Homo sapiens: one gene and its partners. Changing the gene in region 3 together with the main gene of any one other region gives a genetic interaction. Each region holds a gene or a part of one and is shown on either strand. Other genes may lie near its edges.

Evidence for each region.
Region 1: of DDX55 (region 3) and ATG7, changing one suppresses a phenotype caused by changing the other (phenotypic suppression), as found in Homo sapiens cells (one large-scale study listed by BioGRID).
Region 2: changes in DDX55 (region 3) and SREBF1 together harm fitness more than expected from each alone (negative genetic interaction), as found in Homo sapiens cells (one large-scale study listed by BioGRID).

Annotation. Positions count from the first base shown.
Region 1 is NC_000003.12:11,275,253-11,278,900, reverse strand, and holds part of ATG7 (ubiquitin-like modifier-activating enzyme ATG7), read right to left. Parts: exon of another isoform or gene 81-3,648; intron 1-80. UniProt on the Homo sapiens protein: E1-like activating enzyme involved in the 2 ubiquitin-like systems required for cytoplasm to vacuole transport (Cvt) and autophagy.
Region 2 is NC_000017.11:17,816,473-17,820,120, forward strand, and holds part of SREBF1 (sterol regulatory element-binding protein 1), read right to left. Parts: coding exon 3,618-3,648; intron 3,254-3,617; coding exon 3,066-3,253; intron 2,983-3,065; coding exon 2,848-2,982; intron 2,763-2,847; coding exon 2,541-2,762; intron 1,903-2,540; coding exon 1,788-1,902; intron 1,445-1,787; coding exon 1,224-1,444; intron 1,120-1,223; coding exon of another isoform or gene 1,076-1,119; intron 986-1,075; coding exon 784-985; intron 665-783; coding exon 486-664; intron 247-485; coding exon 1-246.
Region 3 is NC_000012.12:123,605,050-123,608,697, reverse strand, and holds part of DDX55 (ATP-dependent RNA helicase DDX55), read right to left. Parts: exon of another isoform or gene 2,768-3,648; coding exon 2,717-2,767; exon of another isoform or gene 2,671-2,716; coding exon of another isoform or gene 2,626-2,670; coding exon 2,539-2,625; intron 1,267-2,538; coding exon 1,175-1,266; intron 1,099-1,174; coding exon 1,036-1,098; intron 19-1,035; coding exon 1-18. UniProt on the Homo sapiens protein: Probable ATP-binding RNA helicase. Has ATPase activity and is involved in the maturation of precursor large subunit rRNAs.

The DNA of each region.
Region 1 (3,648 bases), on a different chromosome or scaffold from region 3:
AAGCCTTCCCTGACTCCCTCAGCTCTGGATTAGGTCGATCCTCCTGTATTCTAGTCCTCAAAGAGCACCAACTACCTTACCTTCATAGCACGTATGCAGTTATCCTCCTCAGTAGAATAAAAATTCTATGAGAAAGGAACCATGTCAGCTTCTCATTTTCCCCCATTCATCATTGTTTTTCTAGCACCTGACTTAGCACCTCATAGGTGCCCAATAAATACTTGTTGATGACTGAAACAAAGAATGAATAAATAAAAATTCTATGAGAAAGGAACCGTGCCAGCTTCTCATTTTCCCCTATTCGTCATTGTTTTTCTAACACCAGTCTTCGCACCTCACAGGTGCCCAATAAATACTTGTTGATGACTGAAACAATGAAAGAACAAACCAGGATGGTATGTTTGAGAAAATACAAATGAGTTCTGTTGCGGGAAGTCACGGACCCTGAACGGAGGGACCGGCTGGAGCTGCAGCAGAGAAACATAAATTGCGAAGATTTCATTTTAATATGGACATATATCAGTTCCCAAATAATACTTTTATAATTTCTTATGCCTGTCTTTACTTCAATCTCTGAACATAAATTGTGAAGATTTCATTTTAATATGGACATTTATCAGTTCCAAAAATTAATACTTTTATAATTTCTTATGCCTGTCTTTAATCTCTTAATCCTGTTATCTTTGTAAGCTGAGAATGTAAGTCACCTCAGGACCACTATTGTGTTAACTGTACAAATTGATTGTAAAACATGTGTGTTTAAACAATATGAAATCAGTGCACCTTGAAAAAGAACAGAATAACAGTGATTTTCAGGGAACAAGGGAAGACAACCATAAGGTCTGACTGCCTACAGGGTCAGGCAGAATACAGCCATATTTTTGTTCTTGCAGAGAGCCTATAAACAGACGTGCAAGTAGGGAAGATATCACTAAATTCTTTTCCTAGCAAGAAATATTAATAATTAAGACCCTGGGAAAGGAATGCATTCCTGGTGGGGGGGGGGGGGTCTATAAAGGGCCGCTCTGGGAGTGTCTGTCTTACGCAGTTGAGATAAGGACTGAAATATGCCCTGTTCTCCTGCAGTACCCTCAAGCTTACTAGGATTGGGAAACCCCACCCTGGTAAATTTGAGGTCAGACCAGTTCTCTGCTCTCGAACCCTGTTTTCTGTTGTTTAAGATGTTTATCAAGACAATACATACACTGCTGAACATAGACCCTTATCAGGAGTTTCTGATTTTGTCCTTGTCCTGTTTCCTCAGAAGCATGTGATCTTTGTGACCCACTCCCTGTTCGCACACCCCCTCCCCTTTTGAAGTCCTTAATAAAAACCTGCTGGTTTTGCAGCTCGGGTCGGCATCACAGTCCTACCAATATGTGATGTCACCCCCAGAGGCCCAGCTGTAAAATTCCTCTCTTTGTACTCTTTCTCTTTATTTCTCAGCCAGCTGACACTTATGGAAAATAGAAAGAACATACCTTGAAATATTGGGGGCAGGTTCCCCTGATAGAGTTCTGTATGGCAGCAAGGAGAGGCACATGGGGCAGAGTAGATGGACCATGCCATAAAAGCAGGCAAAGGCCATATCATGAAGAGCCTTATGTGAAAAGCTATGCAACTGTATTTCTGCATAGATCTCTATTTTAGTAAAGGCAATCCACAGCAGTGAGGACCAGACTGCTGAGGCAGGGCAACCAGCTGGGAGGCTGTGCAGAAAGACAGGCAAAAAGGGAGGGGAGCCTGAAATGAGGGAGCAAGGGAGGAAATGGAGGAGATGTGAGTCAGGAGATAGCAACAAAGTCGAATCTATAGAACTCTGATGACTACCTGGACTTGGAAGATGGAAAGGAGGGCTAGTACCAGAGGAAGAGTCTGAGATGACTCTCAGGGTTCTGTTTTGGATGACTAAATGAAAGGAGAGGAATTGGCAAGATTCAAGAATGGAGAAAGAACGGCAGGTTCAAAGGGAAGATGAGGAGCTTAGTTTTAGACTTGTTTGAGTTTGAGGGTAGCACTCAGGAGAGATTCGGGCTATGATACAGAACAGGGGTCATGAGCATATAAACAAGTTTGAAGCTGCGGTTGAAAAGAATATAGTAGAGGGCAGAGTCTTGGCAAAAATTGGCATGTGAGGGACAAAGGGGAAGAAAGGAGCCCACAATGGAAATTGAGGGACAAATGGCCAGAGAGATAATACAAAGTAGGACTGGGTTTTCCTAAGTGAGGGGCAAGGTCAGCAATGTCAGATGTGCCAAGAAAGATAAGAAGGAAAAGTGGTCAGGTATTCTGGCAATGTCGAGGTCTGATGACTTTGGGGAGTGGTGGGACGAGAGCAGGATTTTAGCAATGACTTAGGGAAGTACAGGAAGCAACTCTAGATAACTCTTCCAAGAAAGGTGGCTGGGTAAAAGAGGTGTGACAGGGTGCAGCATAGGTTAATTGGAGGGTTTTTGTTTTTTCCAAAATGAGAGTAAACAGAGAATATTTAAATGAGAAGGGTTGATGAAACAGAAAAGAAAATGAACAAATGATGGAACCCAGTCCTTGAGGCAAAGGAGGCGATGGGATCTCAAGCACAAATAGAGGACTTAGTCTTAAAACACCATTTCTTTCACAGAATTAGAATAAAAGGCAAAAGGATAGGGTCAGCTAAAGATCAGTTGGTAAAGGATAGAAGAGGAAGCTGCGATGCCTTAATTAATGGCTGCAACTTAGTGGAGCAAAAGTCAAGGTAGGAGGTTGAGGAGAGGAATGAATATGAGGAAGACATAAAGGGAAATGGACAAGAGAGCTGCCTGAGGATATGGGGAGGGCTGAGCCACGCTGAGGGCCTATTTGGTGGCACACTAGTGTAATAGTGTCAAAAGCACAATGTGTCTATAATGGAGCTGGCAGGGCTTTAGGTTACCACAAGAAAAGTGCAGTCTTGCTCTGCATGGTTAGAGTCCTCAAGGAAAGAGGATTTCCTTTCTGTACCACACACTCAAAGAGAGGCTGACAAACCAGAGCAAGTTCAAGGATGGTAACTGGGATGAAGGTGTGAGGAAATCCCAAAAGTGATCATTCTGAAGCCGGTCTGAGATGGAGTGAATAGGCTATTCCTCAGTCTGCCAAGATCATGGTAATACCTACTGACTACCAATTAACAGAGCAGCACCTCCAGTATTTATTGTCCCTTGATTATACAATCAGGCCTTAATCGCACTGGAGAAGGGTGGGGAGATCAGGAGATAGAAAGGGGAGAGGAAGCGGTGGCTCACGCCTGTAATCTCAGCACTTTGAGAGGCTGAGGCAGGCGGATCACGAGGTCAGGAGATGGAGACCATCCTGGCTAGCACAGTGAAACCCCATCTCTACTAAAAAAAAAAAAAAAAAAAAAAAATTAGCCGGGCATGGTGGTGGGCACCTGTAGTCCCAGTTCCTGGGGAGGCTGAGGCAGGAGTATGGAGTGAACCCAGGAGGCAGAGCTTGCAGTGAGCCGAGATCGTGCCACTGCACTCCAGCCTGGGCGACAGAGTGAGACTCCATCTCAAAAAAAAAGAAAAAAAAAAAAAGAGGAGAGGAAGACATTAGCGAACGTCATTTCCATGGGTAGAAGTGGACGACAGAGGCAAACTGAATTCCAAATAAAATCAGAGGTCAGGG
Region 2 (3,648 bases), on a different chromosome or scaffold from region 3:
GTGCAGCTTATGGTAGACCAGGGCTGCGTCTCGGGCGCTGGCGCTAGCATCCACTCGCAGAGCACAGTCCTGCTGCAGGCCCCCTGCCCGGCCTGCCAGCCAGCGGCCCACCCAGAGACGCTGCAGCAGGTGACGGATGAGGTTCCAGAGGAGGCTACAAGCCAGGTCCAGGTGGGAGGTGGGCAGGGGCCGGCCCAGTGCCCGCAGGGCCAGCCACAGCTGCTGGGCAGCCTGGGCAAAGTCTCCCTGTGGATGAGGGTTTTCCAGGTGAGAAAAGTGAGGTCAGAGCAGCTGCCCCAAAGCTCAGAAGAGCCGTCCACAGCAGGCTCTGGAGGGGTGGTGGGGGTCTGCGGATGCGTGGCTAGGCACAGGGAGGACGGGACAGATTCATGGTGTGCACAGGGAGCAGGAACAAGGGTTGACACCCAGCACCTTCACAGCCTGGGGTCCCTGCCCTGCCCACTCTGCCGGGGCCAGCCCCTTACCCGGGCCAGGTCCAGGTCAGCCTGCTTGCGATGCCTCCAGAAGTACACGGCGGGGCCTGAGTGGGGCCGTGTGACTGGCTCACCGTAGACAAAGAGAAGCACCAAGGAGACGAGCACCAACAGCCCATTGAGCAGCCAGACCACTGGGGGCAGCAGCCACTGGGCCCAGCCAGGGCCATCTATGGACAGAGGGAAAGCTGGGGACACAGCTCCCAGGAAATCCAGAGCCCCAAGTTCACAAGCCTGGGGGCTCACCCCGAGTGTCCCTCCCAAAGATGCCCAGGCTGGCCGGTCCCACCTCTGCTCTCGGTGCCCAGCACGTTGCGCCCAGGGCTATGGTAGACGCTGGTGGTATCTGAGGGGCTGGGAAGCCCCCGGGCCCCCAGCAAGGAGGCCAAGGGGTTGCAGGACAGGCAGAGGAAGACGAGCGTGCACAGGGCCAGGCGGGAGCGGTCCAGCATGCCCCGGCTGTGCAGAGACGGCCGCTGCTCTGGCTTTGCCTGGTGGGGTTGGGCAGGGTGGTGAGGGCAGAATCGGAGGGACCCCAGAGAGCATGGGGCTGGGAAGGGGGGGGTCAGGATTCTGCCCACCTTACTGTGGGACCCCACGTGGCTCCAGGCCTCAGTTATTCTGTCTATGAAATGGGAGGTAGGATCTGTTAGGGTCTTCCCGGCCCTGTCATGAGGCTCAGAGGATATGGCTGGGAGTGGGGAAGGGGGCACCGTGGCAGGGCCCAACCTTGCTGTCCTCAAAGACTGGGCTGTCAGGCTCCGAGTCACTGCCACTGCCACCGCTGCCACTGCCCCTGCTGCCAAGGGACAAGGGGCTGCTCTGGAAAGGTGAGCCAGCATCCGAGGGGGGTGGGGTCAGTGTGTCCTCCACCTCAGTCTTCACGCCCTCCATGAGCACGTCTGTGTTCCCTCCACTGCCACAGGCCGACACCAGATCCTTCAGAGATTCTGTGGGCCGAAAGGAACAGAGCCAGGAGTAAAGGCTGGATATGTGACCCCAAATCAGAGCCTAGGCCCTTGGAGGCCTAGGGACTACTGTAGCTCCTAAAGCTAGCCCAGGACGCTTTGATGGGGCTGGGTTAGGGCCAAAGGGAGGCACCAGGTCTCTTTCAGGACCAGAGGTAACCAAGGGACTAGAGCTGAATGCAGGGCTACAGCCAAGGGTGAGGTGGGCAGGGCAGAGGGTGGGCCAGAACCAAGGGTGGGGTGGGGCTAGGGATGGGGTGGGGCCGGGAGGTGGAGCAAGGCTAGAGAAGAGGCCAGACTGGAGCTCAATAAAGCCAGGACTCACTGCTTTTGTGGACAGCAGTGCGCAGACTTAGGTTCTCCTGCTTGAGTTTCTGGTTGCTGTGTTGCAGAAAGCGAATGTAGTCGATGGCCTTGCGCAAGACAGCAGATTTATTCAGCTGCACGGTGTGGGAGGGAGGGGGAGCGCACAGGTGGCCTGTCAGGTCGGGGGTTGTGGGGTTGGAGAGCCCTAGCAAGGGGGTGCGGAGCTGCTTTGCAACATTACTGCCTCAGGACCTTTGCACTTGTTCCTTCTACCTGAACCGTTCCTCGCCTAGTAGCACCCACCTCCCAGGCCGGGCATAGGGTTAGAATGTAAGATGCAGACAGCAGGGTCTGGCTAGCTGCTGCTGTGCCTGCCGCCATCTCAGGGAGGCCTTCCCTGGCTACCACCAGGGGACCCTCACCATCCTCTTCCTGCTTTCTCTGCAACGAGCCAAACGTGGTGGTCTCGAGCACTTATTCATCCTGCCTACTGTCCATCTCCCCCACCAGAAGGTCGGCTCTTCTTTGAGGGACAATTTTTGTCTGTCTTGTTCATTGCTGCATCCCCAATGCCTAGCACAGCCCCACCTTTATTGAAGAGGCCTGCAAACCAGTTTAACTAAATAAACGAGGCTGGCCAGGCCTGGGGAGGCTGAATTCCAATTCCCTGCTTGTCCAGGCTCAGTCTCACTCCCTCTCTTCCTTCCAGTTGCCCCTGATCTGTTCCTTCCTAGGGACACCCCGGTCTGTGCCCCTGCAGGCCTCTCCACACCTTTGCCTCAGTGCCCACCACCAGATCCTTGAGCTCAATGATTTTGTCATTGATGGAGGAGCGGTAGCGCTTCTCAATGGCGTTGTGGGCTGTGCGCTTCTCTCCACGGCTCTGGGCAGAGGCCGGGGCCTTGCTGCCAGCTGCGAGCCGGTTGATAGGCAGCTTCTCCGCATCTACGACCAGTGGGACTGTTGCCAAGATGGTTCCGCCACTCACCAGGGTCTGCAGGGCCAGGCACATGTTACCAGGTGGGCATGTGTGTGTGTGTGTAGACCCCACTCCCTTATGCCCTGCCCACGTCACCCACCGGCAAAGGCCCTGTCTGCACAGTGGTGCCAGAGACCAGGGGACTGAGACCTGCCGCCTTCACAGTGGCTCCGTCTGTCTTCATGGCTGTCAGAAGCAGCGAGTCTGCCTTGATGAAGTGGGGCTGCAGCAGGACCTGAGGGTGGGAGAGGCTTGGCTGTAAGCTGTGTGTCTGGGCTGGGGCTGCCCCCTCCCCAACCCCTGGCCAGACCCCCTCACCGGGACCTGCTGGATCTGCGAGGTCACAGTGGTCGTTACAGGGGCTGCCGTGGGGGCAGCTGTGACTGTCAGTAGCTGCTGGGGGACCACACTCTGGACCTGGGTGTGCAAGGAGACGGGCGGGACCCCTGGCGGGGAAGCCAGTGGCAGGCCAGGCAGCGGCTGCTGGGTGTTCCCGGGAGGGCTTCCTGCAGAAATAAAGCATGGGGCTGCAGACACAGACCTCCCTCTCCCACTTTCAACCTGCTCTTCAGGTCTCTATCACCGACTGGCCTTGGATGAGTCATTGCCCCATGTGGCTTCCTATGGACAGTCCCTGCCTGGGCTCTGATGCAAATGCACTGGCTTCAAGCCAGGCCTCCAGTGCGAGGTTGCGCCTACCCCGGCAACAAGCACACCAGGACTGCTAGTAACAGGGCATCTCAAGCAGCCGAGTGGAGCCCCAGTTTCTAAAGCCTGCACAGACCTCTACTCACATCACAGCAGAAGCTTCTTCCTGTGCTCCTGGAAGCCCCACCCCGGGTGTCCCCTCCCGCCACACATCCCCCTTACCTGTAGAGAAGCCTCCCGGAGGGCTGGGGTA
Region 3 (3,648 bases):
GCCACAATGATGTTCCCACTTTGGAAAGAAAGTTAACATTTACCAAACTCTCTGGATCTTGGGAATGTGGTTGATGATTACCAAAATACCAAGTTTTATATCCCCCCAAAGTCATTTAAGCCCTAGTGAAGAGAACGAAGAGCATGAGAGTAGAAGAGTGCTGCAGGGTAGAAAGACTGAGGGCTGTGGTGAGACGGGATCTGGGTTCTGGGCTATGACCTAGGCAAGGTTGGCAAACTCCAGCTCCCGGACCAAACCTGGGCTGCTGCCTGTCCTTGCCAAGTATTTTATTGGCAGAAAACCACGCCCATTTATTCACATGTTGTCTATCGCTGCCTTCACACTACAACAGCAGTTGAGTAAGTGCGATGGAGACCATATGGTTCACAAAGCCGAAAACATTTACCATCTGCTCCTTTATAAAAAAAAAGCTTACCAACCTCTGACTTACGCAAGTTACTCAACCATTGTAGGTCCCAGGTAACTCACTTGTAAAATGGAAATGTTGACAGAATTAGAGAATCCTATGTAAAGATCACAAACTGGCAGACTCAGGGCCAGATGTGGCTCCCTCAGACTGGCTCACCTACAAGATATGTTTTTCAAATGTGGATTACACGCCAACAGTTAAAAAATCAGGAGATTACACACACAAATCTGGAATTCCATCTTCTTTTTAAAAAATTCAAAACCTGCCACTACTGAGCCGAGTCCTCCCAGGCAACTACCAGCTGGAGCTGAGTATTCAAGGCAGCTGCTGGCCAGTTCCTCACCATCCCCCAGCCCCTGACCACTCATTTATCTTCACGTCGTTCTCTTGACCTCTGTAAGAACCTGAGTTTGTGAAGTTCTCATCAGGGCCTTATGGGAAGGAGCCAGCAAAGCACAATGGGAAGCTGGCCTGGAGAAAACACCTTTTTGCAGGGGGAGGAGGCTGCTGAAAGGGGGACCCACAGTTAGGCTGAGATCACACATCGATTCTTAGGTTCAATGCCAAAAGCAAGCAAAGAAACAAGCAGACACGAGCAAACTCACCCTTGTTGCTTAAACCTCTCAACATCTTCTCCAGGATTCCTGCCTCCGATCCAAAGAATCTGGCTACAACAAGAAAACAGCCTTTGATTAAGTTCGACAAAACAGCCCATGACTAACAGGGACACTGCATCCAATTCACCTGAACTCGGGGAAGTGCTTCGTGAAATGCGACAGGACCTCGTCTATTTGAATGGCCAGCTCTCGAGTGGGGGTGATGATTATGGCTCCAACCTACCCACATGGAAGGAAGGGACACAGTCAGCAGCACAAGGGACTCCCAGAGAGGAACTCATAGGCCCTCCGCCCTCTACCACACAAAGGAAAGTTCCAGAGAAACAGTAGTTCCCAGACTTTCTCAGCAGCATCTCTGAGCACATATCAACTACTTTGAATTACGGTTACTCGTCATCATATACTGCAGTTATGCTCTTTCAAGTCATGAAGAACAGTGAATTAGTCAATGCTGAACCACTGCTCACAGGGGAAACACAGGGTTAGGTTCCTGCCAGTCTTTGGGCATGACATTTTTGTCAACCAATCAATACATAAACCTATTTTATGTCTGTTTGTGCTTAAAAGACTCTATTTAACATATACTATTGATTCATTCTCATTGAACTCGTGGCCAACAGCACATTAACTCATGCCTTAGCTTGTGCTTCTCTAGCACAGGGATTTTCTCTGCACGTCATAACCTTCTTGCACCCAGGAACACTAGACTGCACTACATCACGGGGCCATTTCAAAAACCAAAATCACCAACATAAAGCACAAAAATGTGCAAAATGGCCGGGCGCGGTAGCTCACACCTGTAATCCCAGCACTTTGGGAGGCCGAGGCGGAAGGATCACTTGAGCCCAGGAGTTTAAGACCAGCCTGGGTAACATGTCAAAAAATACAAAAAATGACCCAGACATGATGGTCCACACCTGTAGTCCCAGCTACTTGGAAGGCTGAGGCAGGAGGACAGCTTAAGCCTGGGAGGTGGAGGTTGCAGTGAGATGAGATCACACCACTGCACTCCAGCCTGGGTGACAGAGCAAAACCCTGTCTCAGGGAAAAAAGAAAAAAAAAAAAAAGGTAAAAAACATGGCACTAAATAAATGACGAAAAGGACACTGTTTACACCTGAGCAGTGAAAACAAAGGCAGCTCTGCCCACGCCCATGACCACAGAAGCACCGAGGATCCACTGGGGTGTTCTAAATTTTAACGAGCAGGCAAATTCACAAATACAGAATCCACAAATAATGAGGATTAACTGTCTTTTTTTTTCAAGTTTCATTCATTCATTATTTGTAGAGATGAAGTCTCACTGTGTTGCCCAGGCTGGTCTCAAACTCCTGGACTCCAGTGATCCTCCAGACTCAGTCTCCCAAAGTGCTGGGATTACAGGCGTGAGCCACGGCTTCTGGCCTATTTTTTCACATTTGTAGCCAGCTTCTTAATCCAATGTGAACTCTCTGATGACTAGGTGAAAATAAATCACTTTTGTTGTCCTCACCTGACTCTTTTTTAACTTCTCTTCTCTTCTCAGAAGAATTTCCAGGATGGGGATGACAAAAGCGAGTGTTTTGCCACTACCTGTGACCTGCAAACAGAGAGTTTTGGTTTCCCTTTCTTCCTCAGAGTTCATCTGAGGGAGAACACGAGGACAGGCTGCACATACCCGAGGCACTCACCGCTTCTGCAGCGACATCTTTGTTTCGCATGAACAGAGGGATGGTTGCGGACTAAAGAGAGAGATTGCAAAGCACTGGTTAAAGGATGCCATCAATTCACAGGTGAGACCCGAAGCCCTAGGAACATAATGGGCAGCTAAGGTCACAGTGGGTCCCACCACAAAAGGGGCTCTGAGTAACCAAGTCACCATAGAGAAGTTGAATCAAACGTGGCAACTGTGTCTATGTGGACGGCGTGTGGGGACAGTGAGCTGAGCTGGGAGGTGGGAGTCCTGAATTCTAGCCCTGTCGCTCCTACTTTCCTCTCTGAACCAGGAAGGCGTTGAAGACATTGGGTTTTAGGGTCCCTTCCAGCTCTAGTATCACAGAATCATGATTCAAATAAACCCTCTCATTTTAAGCACTGTAGAGGTTGCCAGACTTTAAAAGAAACCTGGTTTTAGCAATCAAAAAAAACCTCAATTAGATTCAGGCCTTGGCCTGGAGGCTGCTCCCTCCAGGATTCAGCCCTGGTCCCCAGGGCCTGAGCTCACTTAAATCACAGCAGGTGTAATATTATTCTAACTGCCTCTACACAGTGATTGCTATCCCCCTGCTCAACCCCTGAGGGAACATTTGACAATGTAAGGAGACATTTTTGGTTGTCAAAACCCAGGGTGGGCCAGGCGTGGTGGCTCACATCTATAATCACAGCACTTTGGGAGGCCCAGGTGGGTAGATCCCTTAAGGCCAGGAATTCCAGACCAGCCAGGCAACACAGGGAGACTCTGTCTCTACAAAGAAAATTTTTTTAATTATGTGGGTGTGGTGGTGCATGCCTGCAGTCCCAGCTACTCAGGAGGCTAAGGTAAGAGGATCACCTAGGCCCAGGGAGGTCGAGGCTACTGTGAGCTGTGACTGTGCCACTGCACTCCAGCCCGGGTAACAGAGCA